2 separate regions of the Homo sapiens genome follow, and region 2 is linked to region 1. Evidence: fine-mapped expression QTL. A gene starts in region 1. The other region holds a variant in brackets. All regions are shown on one strand. Distances are from middle to middle. Region 1 holds the start of S100A10 (S100 calcium binding protein A10). Region 2 overlaps THEM4 (thioesterase superfamily member 4).

Evidence for each region.
Region 2: its variant is fine-mapped to the expression of S100A10 in whole blood (TOPMed, PIP above 0.99).

The regions. Positions count from the first base shown.
Region 1 is chr1:151,990,492-151,998,826 of GRCh38, forward strand. It overlaps S100A10 (S100 calcium binding protein A10), which reads right to left and starts at 3,368. Exons shown (of 3, transcript NM_002966.3): 1 at 3,261-3,368. RefSeq lists an enhancer at 1,408-2,607 and silencers at 3,176-3,475, 3,486-3,535, 3,666-3,795.
Region 2 is chr1:151,886,107-151,894,441 of GRCh38, forward strand. THEM4 (thioesterase superfamily member 4) reads right to left here. Exons shown (of 6, transcript NM_053055.5): 3 at 3,108-3,267; 4 at 2,167-2,277. Among named protein-coding and RNA genes, the nearest start is that of THEM4, 19 kb to the right of the region's middle. The variant G/A (reference allele first, on the strand shown) is at 3,751.

The DNA.
Region 1 (8,335 bases):
TGAGCAACAGGTCTTAAGAAGGGAGGCGGAGACATCTTTCTCTGCATAGTTTTCTCTATGGAAAACAATTCTGGACTCCACAAATTTAGTTACCTTAGGAGGAATTCAATTTTCCATTTTTGGTTCTCCCTCCCTGAGCACCTACTTTGAATGTCCCAGACATGGTGTTAGGCATGAGGGTGTTCACACACACATACACACATGCACACACACACAAAGCTCTCCATGGTGCTTGCCTTTGAGGAGTTCACCAGCTAATGGAATACTATTAAAGCATTTGGCCTGAATTCTAGTTATTTGTGTTTCTGTTTCTTTCCTCACTAGGTTGCAGGTTTTTTGAGCAGGGTCCCAATAGCCAGTGCCCCAGCCCTCATAGAGCCTGCTCGATGAATTGTTAAGAAATTGATAATGATGTATTTTGGTTGTCCTGCGAGTAGCAGACAAGCAGGAGTCCTCCTCAGAAAAGTGTCTGCTCCTGAAAAATCTCAAATGTTTGCTTTGGACCTATGCCCAGATCCCGGCTGCAGTTTCAAAGAGGACACTTCTGCAGAGTGAGTCGGACTTGCTTTGCTCCTCTGTGTCTTGTCCATACCCTAGTTTTCTTACAGCCCACCCAGAAAATAAACGGCAGGGTGTCAGTAAAAACAAACATCTGTTATTTAAAATATGTTTGAGGTTTCCTTCCTTTTGCTTTAGAAATTTTGGAGTTTTTAAAATTGAACCCAGAAGGCATTCTTAAATTTGATCTCTGAAGGGAATTCAGAAAAAATGAGTTGAAGCAATGGATCTGGATCCAGGCTGTCTCTCTCACCTCTCACCAACTAAAACTTGCCCACTAAAGAACTGGGCAGCAAAGGAACGTTTCAGATGCAATTCAATAGGAAGAAAGAACTTGGAAGAAACCTCCTTCAATCTAACCAACTACATCAATTTTTCCTTAAAGAATGCTTAGGCATCAGCCTAATCAGCCAACATAGCTACTGTCAAAACTGCTTTTAGTTAAATCCTTTGGTAGGATGGGTGGTATTTATTTAGTAAAGGGATAGAAAGTGCTGAAAATTGTTTAAAAGAAGTACATTCTTTCTTTTTGCTTTTGATGTGGATTCCTAAATTTGTTGAGTCCCCAGAAAAATGAGAAACTTAAGATGTTAAAATTTTAGTCCAGCTTTCTCAGCACTTTGAGTGCTAATTTATACATTATAATCCTGAAAGAATTCCATTGTTTCTCTCAACTTTACGCTTTAAAAGACTGGACTGTGTCCAAGGGTATACCAAGTGGGTTGTGCTCTACAAAAGTCACATTTTTTGAACTGTCAGTAGAAAGCAGGGAGGCACACAGTCTCAGCTCCACCCTGACCTCACTGGAGTGGCTGCTTAGGAGGCTGGCCAGCACACGGGAGGAAAGGGGCCTATATGATGTGTCGGAGAAAAGCTAGGAAGAGCATCACCCAGAAAGCAGGGTAAGACCCAAAAATTGCTTCATGCCCAGTAGACCAAAAAAATTGTAAGAACCTAGATAAGAAACTCCAAATGGTGGATCAAGGGCCACAGTGAAGAAACTATCCTCTGGCTGTGAAGGAACAAATACACCATTTGGAAGGGATGATTAAAGAGAAACTGGATAGGAATCTGTGGGGGCAGGGCCGATGAAGAAACTTCCAATAAGTTATATGAACTCATTCCCACTCCAACCCCTGGCATTATCTTTTGCAATTTGCTGAAACATGTTGGAGGCAAAGATCACCGACTGGGTGTTTCCATGAGCCTGGCCTCACCTAAAACGCACAACATAAAACTCCATTCCTGGAGACTGAAACTCAAGCTTCTGGGGAAAAATATCCGCAACAACTGCAAACCTCTTAGCGGGAAAAGCTACCTCCCAAGTAAGGCTGAGGCAGGCTGCCAGGCGCATACTGGCCGATAACGAAAAGCGGTCTCGCCAAGGCCCTGCAGATCTAATTACTGCCCTCACCGGCAGTTCAGTCGAGAAACCTCTCCTGCAGACTGGCAGCCAGACCAGGTGTGACTCACTTCCTCTTGGAAAATGCCCTCTGAGATGGCACAGTTCTCCTTTTCCTTCAGGGAGTGTTCTGTCCAAACCATCCACCGAGAGTATCTGCAACCGGCCACACCCACATGGTCTCACAGCTGAGTCACAGGCCTCAGACCACTGGGAGAATCCTGGAGCCCTTTGTGCTAACCACGCCCTGCAGAAGCTCCCGCAGAGACGGAACTGGGTGGGGGCAGAAAACGGGGTGGGCTTAATGCATCCCAGAATCTGGCTTAGGGCTCCCCTGTGCTGGCCTGGCTTGGAGCGCTCTGCATTCCACCCCAGCCAACAAGGCAGAGCTCCTGGTTTCACTTAGGCAGAGCTGGACTGAGGCTGGACAGGCAGCAGTGTCCACGGCTAGGGGCAGCGCCATTCCTTCGGCCAAAGCACAGGTGGTGAACCAAGTACCAAAGGCACGTCTGTCTGTTTCACTGCACCGGGCCAAATTAATCTATGATTGGAAGATCCTTCATCAAGCCTGCTCTTCCTCCATCTCTTTCTGGTTCCACTTATTAAGACAGCAAGGGAACCCTTTCAGTAGAGAAACCACGTCACACAGGGCCCTCTCCCACAAACCCCAGCCAAACTGCTGTAGAAAGAAAACAAGTGGACCTCCCTCCCTCAGCAGGAAGACCCTTTCCGTCGAGCAGACAACAGGAAGCCCCGACCAGAAACGCCTGTTTGGCCGACGGACTAAGGGTTACGGAAGGGACGCCCCAGCTGCCTACTCGTCCTACCCGCGCCTACTTGGGCGGTACAGCCGGGAGCAGGCTACGAACATGCAGACCCGGCCTGCGAGCGGAACCCACCAAGAAACACGCCAGCCAGGGCAGGGGCGTGTAGGAGGGATTCGGTAACCCGAGAGACGAGTGGGAAAGTAGGAAAGGTGGGAGTAAAGCAACGCAAACATAAAGGGAGGAGGGAAGAGGTTCAGGCGCACCAATACCACGGTCCCCTCCTAAAGAACAAGTGCCCCCTCCTCTGGTCCGCGTGGGTCTGGGGGCGGCCGCGCCCGGGCCGGGGAGGGGCGCTGCTGGCCTCGTTTGGGTGTGGCCCGGAGCACTGAGCAGCGGATTCCCCACCAGCCGCTCCCCGCCCAGCCCCGCGGTGCTCCGGACGCCCCGCGAAGCCGGGTGCAGGGTTTTCCCCGGGCAGCAGGTCCGGGCCTGGGGACTACCCAGGAGGGGCGCGTGGGCCGGGCGGAGCTCACCTTGGCCGAGGCGCGGCGGACGCTGGGCGAGCTGGGCGAGCTGGACGCGGGGCGGAGAGGCGAGCGCGGCGGGCTGTGCGCCTTCCTTAGTACGTGCGGCGGGTGGGTAGAGGGAGGCGGCGCGGGAGCGGGAGGAGCCTGGCGGGCGCTCGGCAGGGCGCTCCCCCAGCCCTGTCTCCTCCCCCTCTTCCTGCCCCCGACTCCCCCGACCCCGGGCGCGCGGCCCACGCCCTGCCCTCGCTCCCGGACCCGCCTCGCAGAGGCCTCGCCCGCCCCAGACAGAGCGTTCTTGTAAACTTCTCTTCAGTAGAAACGGTCCTGCTCTCGAATATTTCAGGGCATCCCCACCCTGAGCCTGCCCTTCCTCTCGGGTTTGGTTTTAGAAAGTGTACAAATCAAAGAACCCGGCCGTCCTGCGGGTGGGGCACGCTGGCGCAGAACCAGAGGTAACCGGCTCTGCGGCCACCTACGGGTCTAGGAATTACTTGCTGGATGACCCTGCAGGGAGTGGCACGTGGAGTCCTATCGACCTCAGAGGCACTATCAGATTAGCCCTAGGAGGTCCGTCTGGGGGTCTCGGCGGCCTGCGCCAGTGGAGGGGCGGCACCTCCCCAGAAGCCGGGCTTCCCGCCCCACCGGCCCGCGAGGTGCCGCAGGGAGGGTGCGGTTTGGCTTGTCAGCACCCAGGGGCGTCACAAACCCTTTGTTGAACAGGGGATTTACCCCTTTGTGTGGCGTCACTTGATCAATAGTTCAGTTTCAGTGTGGCTAATAGTGTTAAAAACTGGCCGGGCGCGGTGGCTCACGCCTGTAATCCCAACACTTTGGGAGGCCGAGGCGGGCGGATCACCTCAGGTCAGGAGTTCAACACCAGCTTAGCCAACATGGTGAAACCTTGTCTCTACTGATACAAAAATTAGCCGGGAGTGGTGATGCGCGCCTGTAATCCCAGGAGACTGAGGCATGAGAATCGCTTGAACCTGGGAGACAGAGGTTGCAGTGAGCCGAGATCGCACCACTGCACTCCAGCCTGGGTGACAGAGTGAGACTCTGTCTCAAAAAAAAAAAAAAAAAAGAAAAAAGAAAAAAAGAAAAGAAAAAGGTTAAAAACTAAGTTTCCAAGGCAGTATGCTGTGGTCCTTGAAAAGTCCTTTAGAAGAATTTTCTGGAATAAATTTAGAGAAAACCTAAGTGTTTCCTAGGGGATGCTTACCAACTCCTCGCCCCTCCCCCGCCCGCCCTCTTTTATTTTAATTGTGACTCAGGGTTAAATACAAACTACTAGCAGCTGTTGGTGGAAAAGAGCCCAATCCCAAACTCTGGGGTTTTCCTTTGTTCCCAAGGGAGGCCTTGGGAGGAATGAATGATCCTAAAGGAATGAGCAGACCTGGGGAATCCTCCAAGTGCCACCTCTGACTAATATTGGCTGTTGCCAGGAAAACCCAACTTGGATTTCAGCTATTACTTTCCGTGCAACCCTGGTGCTGACTATTCAAGGGGACAGCTCTTCAAGATCTTCCTGTATACAGTACTTCCCAGTCCCCAGGTCACAGTCACCAGTGGAGGAAATCTCGGATCCCTTTTGTTGCAGGGATTGCAATGCGACTGGGTTTAGAATGGGAATGCCTGGGTTTGCGTACCCCTACTCATCTGATTTCTTCATCTGGTCCACAGACCTTAGGAGTGCTTTAGTGTATGTGGTAGGCCTGGGAATTCAGGGATTAGAGAATCAGTCTCTTTCTCTGAAGAGTTCCAAGTATTGGGCGTTAGATAAGCAAACAATTAAAATCCAGTGTGCTTAGTGAATGGTAGAGGATACTATTGGATACTAGGAGAACACTGAGGAGGGGCTTCCAAGTCCTCTTGGAGTGGTCACAGAATAATTTCTGCAGGAAGCAACATTGGGTAGAAATTTAAAAACAACAATAACACTTATTGTAACTTTTTAATCTGTACAAAGATTCCATTCTTAGAAGGCTTGGAAAATATATCAATGTATAAAAAATGATTTATAAATACATGAGCCAAAGATAAACATTTTCATATTTCTAGTCTTTTTATGCATATGTAACAAATATTTGCATAATTGTGATCATACTGATTATAAAATTAAGTACAGTCATTCACTGCATAACAGTGTTTGAGCCAACGATGGATCATGTATTCAGCAGTGGTTCCATAAGATTATAATAGAGCTAAAAAAATTCCAGTTGCCTAGTGACCTTGTAGCTGTCTAGCGCAATACTTTACTCATGTGTTTGTGGTGATGCTGGTGTAAACAAACTACTGTGCTGCCAGTTGTATAAAAATATAGCACATACCAATTATGTGTAGTATGCAATACTTGATAATGGTAATAAATGACTGTTACTGCATTATGTATTTACTACACTATACTTTTCATCATTATTTTAGAGTGTATTCCTTCTACTTATTAAAAAAACAGTAAAACTTAAAAAAAAGTTTAAAAAACAGCCTCAGGCAGGTCTTTCAGGGGGTATTCCAGAAGAAGTCATTGTTATCACAGGAGATGTGTGTTTTTGCCCTGGAGACCTTTCAGTGGGACCAGATGTGGAAGTGAAAGACAGTTATATTGATGATCCTGACCCTGTGCAGGTCTAGGCTAATACGTGTGTTTGTGTCTTAGTTTTTTTTTTTTTTTTTGTGTGTGTGTGTCTTAGTTTTTAACAAAAAACTTAAAAAAAAATAAAAATTTTAAAAATAGAAAAAACTTACATAAGAAGGATATAAAGAAAGAAAATATTTTCTACAGTTGTATAATGTGTGCTTTAAGCTAAGTGTTATTACAAAAGAGTCAAACATTTAAAGAATTTACAAGTTAGGCTGGGCGTGGTAGCTCACACCTGTAATCCCAGCACTTTGGGAGGCCGAGGCGGGCGGATCACGAGGTCAACAGGTCAAGACCATCCTGGCCAACGTGGTGAAACCCCATCTTACAGAGAAAGAACTAGCCGGGCGTGGTGGCACGCACCTGTACTCCCAGCTGCTTGGGAGGCTGAGGCAGGAGAATCGCTTGAACCCGGGAGGCGGAGGTTGCAGTGAGCCGAGATTGTGGCAGTGCACTCCAGCCTGGAGACAGAGTGAGACTCCATTTCAAAAAAAAAAAAAAAAAGAAAAAGGAAAGAAAAAGGAATTTCCAAGTTTATAACGTAAATTTACAGTAATCTAAGGTTAATTTGTTATTATTATTTTGGTTTTTTGAGACAGGGGCTCCCTCTGTCGCCCAGGCTAGAGCATAGCAGTGTGATCTCTGTTCACTGCAACCTCCGCCTCCCGGGTTCAAGTGCTTCTTGTCCCTCAGCCACTCGAGTACCTGGGATTACAGGCATGTCCCACAGCGCCTGGCTAATTTTTGTTTTTTTTAGTAGAGATGAGGTTTCACCATGTTGACCGGGCTGGTCTCGAACTCTTGGCCTCATGTGATTCACCCATCTTGGCCTCCCAAAGTGTTGGGATTATAGGCATTAGCCACTGCATCTGGCTAGGTTAATTTATCATTGATAAAAGAAAAACTGTTTTAAACATAGTGTAGCCTTAAGTGTACAGTGTTTCTAAAGTCTACAGTAATGTACAGTAATGTCCTAGGCCCTCACATTCACTCACTACTCACTGACTCACCCAGAGCAACTTCCAGTCCTGCAAGTTCCATTCATGGTAAGTGTCCTATTTGTATAGCATTTTAAATCTTTTATACCATATTTTTACTACACTTTTTCCATGTTTAGGTACACAAATACTTACCATTGTAGTACAATTGCCTACAGTATGCTATTCAGGGTTGTAGCCTCAGAGTCCTCGACTGTACCATACAGCCTAGCTGTGTAGTAGACTATGCCATCTAGGTTTGTACAAGTACATTCTATGATGATTGCAGGATGAAATCGTGTAAGGGCACATTTCTCAGAACGTATCCTCATCATTAAGCGACACATGACTGTTTCTATTTTTGTCCCATACTTTTTCCTTTTGTTCTTACTCTTTCCTATGTTACTAAATATTTATCAAGATCATATGTTTATTCATTTAAATCATTCTTTTCACCTTTTTATTTGACAAGTAACTGTTCAACTGTACTGTACTGTGTCTTCTTTTTTCTCTCTTCTCCAATCTGCCAGCAGAACTCTAAGGCCCTAGTGGGTGCATCTCCAGGAGGATGCTGCAGGGTTTCTAAAACATTGTGCTGAGTACTGGGAATACAGTGATGAAAATGGTCAGCACACCTTGCTCTTCCTGGCCTCATGTGGTTTCTTAATGACTCTGTGTACTAGCAGGTCCATAAAGCTTCAAGTATCAGCCATGCTTATAGTCTCTCTAGGAAAAGGGGTCCCAGGCAGTTCTTTCTCCAGGAAGTAGTTATACCTTGTCAACTACATGCATTCAGTGAAGCCAGCTCTGCTTCCCTAGAGAAAACTGATGGCATCAGGGACCAGTGCCTAAGCCTGAGCTGCCCAGCAAGGATAGTGTCTTAGCAGGAGGGTAGCCAACTGAATGGCCACTGGAGGAATGAGAGCAGAGGCCCCATCCATGTGGTCTCTGAAATGATGAGAAAGCAATGTTCAAATCTTCTACCAGGGCTGAAGTAGGTTCCAATGTACAAAATGTTGGGAGCTGGAGAGATTGATCCACTAGTGAGGCAGTATTGGGAATTTTACCACTTCTCCATGTGGCACAGCCACAAAATCCTATTACCCTCAACTTTTTTGGGTTTGTGGCTGTGGCACAGAAGGTGGGCTATCTACCAGAAATGTGTGTTCCTCTTTTCATTGTGTAGAGTTTTGGCCGCTCAGCTAGGGATTATATTTCTACCACCTCATACCCCTAGGTAGGACTATGTGACTAGCCACCAACACAATGGGACTGGAAGTGATATGTGTCACTTGCAGGCCAAGGCAGTAAAGAGGTGACTTTCCCATATTCTTTCTCTCCACCTGACAGGACTCCAAGGCTCTAAGGATGGAAGAGTCATAATTGGAAAGAGCCTGGGTACCTGAATCACTGTATGGAGGAAAATCACTTGCTGAGCAGGAACATCCTCATTGGACTAGCTATGTGGG
Region 2 (8,335 bases), 100 kb before region 1:
GAGGCTGTGTGTTGTAGTGAAGAGCATCAGATTTGGTGTCATAAGATGTGAGTTCTAATTCTGACTAAATTGCTCTCTATCCATATGACTTCAGGTAAAACTTCTTTTCAGTATGTTTTCCAATTGTGGGGAACAAATGAACAGCAATGCAACTGATTTTTGTGGATGGTTTATTGGGTGGGACAAACACTAAGCATAGAGTTTGGCAGGTTCTGTTTCCCATTTTGCATTTGAGTATGTGCTTAAGACACAAACACTTTTTGAGATAAACAGCAATCTAAATACTTTGTTTCAGCTTGTTTTCAAAGTAACCGTTTACATTTATTTTTTTAGGAACGATGTTATACTTCATTATTCAACTTTATTTGAACATGGAAAAATATTTTTAAAAACATGGGACATGGAAAAATATAAAAAATTTAATTTTTAATATATTCTTTAACATGTTAAGAAAACCCAGATTTCTAGAATCTAATTTATAGTTATAACTAATATGAAATATTGACCATCTGTAAATATGTCAACTTTCCCCAAATTAATCTCTAGAATCAATGTAATTGCTATTAAAATTGTTAAAAGGAGGTACAATGACAATCTGGGTTTAAAGGTTAAAAATCTAAGGCACAACTAGGAATAGAAAGAAACTCTCTCAACATAATAAAGGCTATTTATGAAAACCCTACAACTAACATCATGCTGAATGGTAAAAGACTAAAACCTTTTCATTTAAGATCAGAAACAAGACAAGGATGCCCACTTTTGCCACTTCTATTCTACATGGTACTAGAAGTCCTAGCCAGAGCAATTAGGCAAGAAAAAGAAATCAAAGGTATTCAAATTGGAAAGGAAGAAGTACAAAGATCTGTTTACAAATGACATGACTTTGTATATAGAAAATCCTAAAGATTCCACAAAAACCTGTTAGAATGAATAAACAAATTCAGCAAAGCTGCAAGATGTAAAATCAACACAGAAAAAGCAGTTGCATTTCTATACACAAACAATGACTAATCCAAAAAGGAAATTAAGAAAACAATTAAGGCCAGGTGCAGTGACTCACATCTGTAATCCCAGCACTTTGGCAGGCCAAGGCAGGCGGATCACTTGAGGCCAGGAGTTTGAGATCAGCCTGGCCAACAAAGTGAAACACTGTCTCTACTGAAAATACAAAAAATTAGCCAGCTGTGGTGGTGCATGCCTGTAATACCAGCTACTTGGCAGGCTGAGGCATGAGAATAGCTTGAACCTGGGAAGTGGATGTTGCAATGAGCTGAGATCATGCCACCACACTCCAGCCTGAGCAATAAAGTGAGACTTTGTCTCAAAATAATAATAATAATAATAAAAAAATTAAAAATAAAAAAATCAAAAAGAATAAAATACATAGGAATAAACTTAACCAAAGAGCAAAAGTCTTATACACTGAAAACTACAAAACATTGATGAAAAAAATTAAAGACACAAATAAATGGAAAGACATCTGTGCCTGTGGACTGAAAAGACTCGGTGTTTTGTGTGTGTGTGTGTGTTTTTGTTGTTGTTGTTTTTTTTACAGTTGGGGTCTTGTTGCCCACCCTGGAGTGCAGTGGCATGATCCTAGCTCACTGTAGCCTTGAACTCCTGGGCTCAAGCAATCCTCTCAAGAAGCTAGGACTACAGACGTGCACTGCTGGGCCCAGCTAAATTTTTAAAAAATTAATTTTGTTATGTAGTAGATGTTGGTGCTCCACCCAGAGCCCCTTGGATCCTTTCTTCACTTGTTTTGGTTATTTTCTCTAGAGTCTGCTTTGCTCAAACACAGAGACCCTTAGAAGTACTTGGAAATTTATGGTCCCTGGGATGGCCCTGATCCTATGACCAATACATGCGAGAGTATAAAGACTCTAGCTCCCTCATCTGAGATGGAGACAATTCTGAGGCATAAATTTCATTCTAGAGCTCTCTTGTATGATCTGGCTAAAGCTATGCTTTGCTGGACTTTTGAGAGTTCAGCCTTGGTTGACACTTCTTCATCTTCCCCGTCCTGCTTCTCCCACTCCCTTGCTAGTCTCCTCTGGGAGCACTTCCTTAATAATCACTTGAACACAAATTATGGTGTCAAGATCTGCAACTGGGAACCTGACTTAACAACACCTAAGGATAAATAGAGAATTACTGTGAATTTACCTTTTATAATTGATGTTGAGATTGGCAGTCATGACGATTCCCCCAGCCATCATTGCACACATACCAACAGTAGCATCAATCATGGTTGCAATGGCACCTCCATGAATGAATCTAGTTACAACAGGAGTGGAGGAGAAATGTTTTCAGAAGTTCTGAAGATAGAGAGCCTCTTGAAAGAGAAAAATTATCCAAGCATCTTCACACTATTTACTTATGAAAGGTCCACTTAGCCCATGTTCAGTGTACTGAATGCCAAATACTATCTATGTCCCCAACTTTGTTTTGTTCACAGCATAATAATATAGTCTTAAGTATTTGTAATAAAACCAGAACTTAATAGTAACCAGATCGCAAGCAAGCAAAAAGCTAAAATGTAATTTAGAAAATTTATATTATGTTTTTATTATTAGTCAAGTGTGGTGTCATGTGCCTGTAGTTCTGGCTACTCGGGAGACTGAGGTGAGAGGATTGCTTGAGCCCAGGAGTTCGAGGCTGCAGTGAGCTATGATTATGCCACTGCACTTCAGCCTGGGCAAAGGAGCAAGGCCTTGTCTCACAAAACAAAACAAACTATACATATTCATTGTTTAGAAATGTAGGTAATGCAAATATGAAAAAAAAGAAAAAAATTTAGGACCCATAATACTACCCACCTAGTCAGTGACAAGCCACTGTTAACACATTAATGATATGCTCTCAAATTATACTCTATTGCCCTATGCCCTATAATATTATAATGCTCATATATAAAAATATTTAATCAATATTAATAATATAGATAAGATGTCCTTTAATAATGTATTATAAACATCTTTCCATGTCAATAAATATACATCTATGTGACCATTTGAAAATCTTTATTGTAGTCCATGTACAGGACACATGGGGGCAGTGTAAGATAAAAATCTTTTAGATCCACACTTTCAGGCTATCATTCTTACCCAGGTGGTCCTTCCAGGTAAGGGCCTCCTTGAAATAAGCAAACCATCCTTTTCTCAATGTCATTGTAGAACATCACGTATTCAAAGCCCAGGCCATCATCAAAGCTTCTGGTGAAGAGCTGGGCCTGTGACATTTGTTCTTCTTTCATAAGCTTTGGGTCTATAGAAAATGAGGTGGATGGCAAATGAGAAACAAGGGTGAGAGAAATGCCATGGCAGAGCCAAGCACCTGTACCCTGCTAGAATCACATGTCAATAGATGATTGATTCAAATGTCCACAGGGTGCAAAATTGAAAGGAATGGGAGCGTCTCAATGAAACAGAAGATAGGATCTTTGCCCTTGTGGAATTAACAGTCCAACTGGGGACAGAGTAAACAGACATGAAATCAAAATGAAGTACCCACACATGGCAATCAGGAATATAGTATATAAACGCTAACAATATACTGAATAAAATGGTACGGTAAAGACGGAAATCCTTCTTGGAAGAACTGTGGTTTAAATGCAATTTACAGAAAATAAAAAATGTAACAGAAAGGAGGTTTCCCTGGCAGACATGAGTTGAGTCTGAATCAGCAACAGGGTCAGTTCAGCCCAACACTCAAGTGATTGTGACTCTAAGCCCCCAAAACTGGCAGTGA[G/A]AACCATTAGGGTTCATGAAATCAGATTGTGGGTTGTAACCAGGCTTCTTTTTTTTTTTTTTTTTTTTTGACAGAGTTTCACTCTTATTGCCCAGGCTGTAGTGCAATGGCGTGATCTCAGCTCACCGCAACCTCCGCCTCCCGGGTTCAAGCGATTCTCCTGCCTCAGCCTCCTGAGTAGCTGGGATTACAGGCGCCCACCACCACGCCTGACTAATTCTGTATTTTTAGTAGAGACGGGGTTTCTCCGTGTTGGTCAGGCTGGTCTTGAACTCCCGAACTCAGGGATCCGCCTGCCTTGGCCTCCCAAAGTGCTGGGATTATAGGCGTGAGCCACAGCGCCCGGCCATTAACCAGGCTTTAAAAAGAAACAGAACACTTAGTTAACAGAACCATATACTCTGGGTAAGTAATAGTGCACTTGTTTAGACACAGTTTTTTTTCACTTACACAATTGTGAGCAAGTTGGGGGAACTGGATTGAATCAAAATATAGGTCACTTCAAAATAAAGATTGAAAGCCATTGCTCTCAAGAAATAGTGCATTTATCCTTTTGTATCTATTTTAAAATTTAATCCCCCTACTCACCTTTCTTTCATAGCTCATCATGATTTGCCATATATAAAACTGTTTATTTCTATTGAATTTATATTTACAAACGTGGAAAAAGATACAGATGAGAAGATCCAGGAGAAGTGGGGAGAGGGACAGGAAGGATGCATTTGAATTAGGTCATGAGCATCTCAGGGCAGGCACCCTGTCTTTTAGACTTTGCATACCCAACAAATGGCACAGATGTGCACATACTATATACACTTAAGCAGTTGTTGAGTGAATTGATGGTTTAGAAGGACAGACAAGGAACCTTAAAATTGGGGATCAGTATTATGGTGCAGTGGAAAGAACCTTGGCCCGTGAGTTGGGAAAATTAAATTATTGGCCTACCTCTGGCCTAGAACTCACTCTTTTGCACTACACTTTATCCATACAATGAGGAGATAAAACAAAATGAGCTCTAAGATCTCTTCCAACTCTGACATTCCAGGACTTCAGGATAAGATAGGTGTTAAGTGCTTATAATTGTTTTACTTAGGAGTTTGAGATTTCTGGTCTAGATTGGCAAACCTTGAGCTTATTTCATAAAAATGAGAAAAATAAGGTCTGGGTTGAGTTAAAATGTAGGTCATTTCAAAATAAAGACCAAAAGCTACTACTCTCAAGAGGATGTGTTTGTCCTTTGTGATGGTGAAAGAAGTTTGTTGGAAATGCAGAATCTCAGGTTCTACTTCTGACCTTCTGAAGCAGAACTTGCATTTTAACAAGATTCCTAGGTGCTTCATATTCATTTTTAAGTCTGAAAGGCAAGAGTATTTTAAGAAATGGGATAGCACTGAAAATAGCATTGGAATAACATGATGAGATTTGCATTTTGAATCATTCTGACAGTTGAGTGGAAGAAGGGCTTTGAGGAGGATAAGAATGGAGACAGGAGATGAAACTACAAAAATCACAATCACCAAACTTATCTGCTAGATGGGGTGATTTTCTCTAGCAATGCTTAACTATGTGAAAGCCAGTTCAAAGTAAAGATGGCAGATGGTTGGATTCATCCAGGGCTGGGGTTTTCCTAGGTTAGGTGGGCTACAAAAGTTCAGATAGATGAGGGCTATTGGACCATGAGAAAGTAAAGGATTCAATGAACTCAGAAGGTCTTAATGAAATAACAATTGTTTCTGAGGGGCCTTTGAACAAGTAAGCTGCTGAAAGGAAAAATGCTGTCATCAGAAAACAGGATGTTTAAATGTATGCATTTGGAGGCTGTGTACTGTCTGAAGATAAGGCTCGAGATGTTCATGGCAGTGTGTGGCTGGGGCTGGGGGATAAGAAAAGTTCATAGGTGATGAGGAAGCACATAAACTGAGGAGCCACTGTGTAGATGCTCGAGTTGCTGAGGATGCTGAATGGAGTTGGGTAGATAGCGGACCAGCTGCTGAAATACTCAACACTGAGGGAGAGGTTGACAGATGACAGCAACAAGGAGGAGAAGAAGAGGAGGGTGACAAAGTTAGATGGTATAAACTCAAAGAAACAGAGGTTTTTTGTTTTTGTTTTTTTTTGAGACAGAATCTTGCTCTGTCACCCAGGCTTGTCTCAAACTCCTGGCCTCAAGTGATCTGCCACTTTGGCCTCCCAAAGTGTTGAGCCACTGTGCCCAGCCCAGAGGGCTTTTTAAGATGAGGGGAAGTAATGGTTTGAAAACAAGTGTGGGTAGCAAAGAGGATCTCAAACTCCTCTTGATTCTGAGAGGGTCAAATTTTAGTCAAGAGCGAATGAGGGTTGGATGAAGAAATGAGCAAAATGTAGGAATGGAACCCTGGAAAACATTGACATTTAAGGAGCAAGTAGAAGGAGGAGGGAAGATTGGTCTGAAAGGTTTATGAAAGCCAAAAGAAAATGTTTCAATGAGAATGAGACAGGGAGGTCTAGTACAGTAAGTGCTGAAGAATGCACACTGAATTTGGCACTTCCGTCACTAGTGGCTTCAATGAAGACATTTCAGTAGAGCTGTGAGGGTAGAAGCCAGATTGTGCTGGGATAAGGACAGTCAGTTGTGTGATGTGCTAACAGTTGGAAGAGAATAAGTAATACAAACTACACATTTTTCCTCTTCATTTATAAAACAGAATAATTCTTCCCTCGAGATATATCAGAGATTCTGCAAAGAAACTTAAGAACTCTATAATTTTTCTTGATTAGTTTTATTTTTGTTTTATTCATTCCTTCAGCAAATACTAAAGTATCTACCATGAGGAAACTGAGGCACAGAAAGGTAAAGTGCCTTGCTCAAAGTTGCACAGCTTTAAATTGTGGAACCAGAATTTGAACCCAGGCACTAAATTTCAACCATTTAATTAAGAAGTTGTCAACTTCTGGATGGTCTCTAAAGCTGAGAGACTGCATGAGATTACCAATGGAGTGTGGAGAAGAGAGGAGTACTAAGGACTGAGACTTGAGGGCACCCCAACATGAAGGGTTTGAGGATGGGGAAGAGCCAGCCCAAGAAACTGAAAAGGAGGCACCAGTGAAGTGGAGAATGTGGTGTCCTAGAAGTTATGTTCAAACAGAAAGGAGTCAACAGCTGTGCCAAAAGCTGAGAGGTTAGCGGACTCAGCAACATGAAGGTCACTGGTACCTTTGGCAAGAGCTGTTTTGAGGGAGTGGGTTCAAGATAGGCTGGGCACAGTGGCTCATGCCTGTAATCCCCGCACTTTGGGAGGCCAAGGTGGGGCAGATCACTTGAATTTAGGAGTTCGAGACCAGCCCGGCCAACATTGTGAAACCCTGTCTCTATTAAAAATATAAAAATAAGCTGGGTGTGGTGGCATGCACCTGTAATCCCAGCTACTTGAGAGGTTGAGGTGGGAGAATCACTTGAACCCGGGAGGAGGAGGTTGCAGTGAGCCGAGGTCACGCCACTGCATTCCAGCCTGAGTGACTCAGTGAGACTCATTCTCAAAACCAAAAACAAAAAAAACAAAAAAACAACAAAACAAAAAAACCCAAAACAAAAGAGAGAGAGAGAGAGAGACTGGGAAGAGAGAAATGCAGTTGTGGCATGTTTATATGCTGATACGAAACATCTAGCAGAGATGGATGTCCTTCAGTAGGCCAAAGAAAATGGAATGCAGCGCACAAATGGAAGGCTTGGTCTCCCTAAGAGTGTGGATGGTTCACTCACAGCAGGAAGAAGCAGAACATCAGGCACAGATGCAGGGGGGAGGATATGTGAGGCAATGGGAGACTGGGAGTTCTCTTCTGACTGCTTTTATTTTCTCTTAGTGAGATAGGAAGCGAGACCAACTGAGGGTGAGAAGGGAAAGTATTAGAGGCATAAGAAGAAAGAAAAAGGCAGAAAATACTCATCCAGTAAGGGAGGAGAGTGAATAAACTAGGGAAACATGAAGTATGGTTGTTGGGCAATATTGAGAGCCTTCTTTTTCTCTTTTTTTTTTTGTAGGGGGGGAGACAGTCTCACTCTGTTGCCCAGGATGGAGTGCAGTGGCGCGATCTCAGCTCACTGCAACCTCTGCCTCCTGGATTCAAATAATTCTTCTGCCTCAGCCTCCCAAGTAGCTGGAATTACAGGTCCCCGCCACGAGGCCCAACTAATTTTTTTTGTATTTTTAGTAGAGACGAGGTTTCACCATGTTGGCCAGGCTGGTCTTAAACCCCTGACCTCAAGTGATCCGCCCGCTTCAGTCTCCCAAAGTGCTGGGATTATAGGCATGAGCCACGGTGCCTGGCCCAAGGGCCTTCTTAAAAGTCAGTTAAAAAAAACCAACCACCACCTAAAGATGTGTTTGGATGATTAAAAGATAATGAGTAACTCAGAAATATCTGTGAATGATTCAAATATACTATAATGATGGATATCTGTCATTACACAGTTGTTAAAACCCACGGAAAACATAATACGAAGAGTGAACCCTAAAACAAACTATGGACCTTAATTAAGAATAATATATTAATATTGGCTCATCAATTGTAACAAATACACCACAGTAATGTGAGATGTTAATAATAG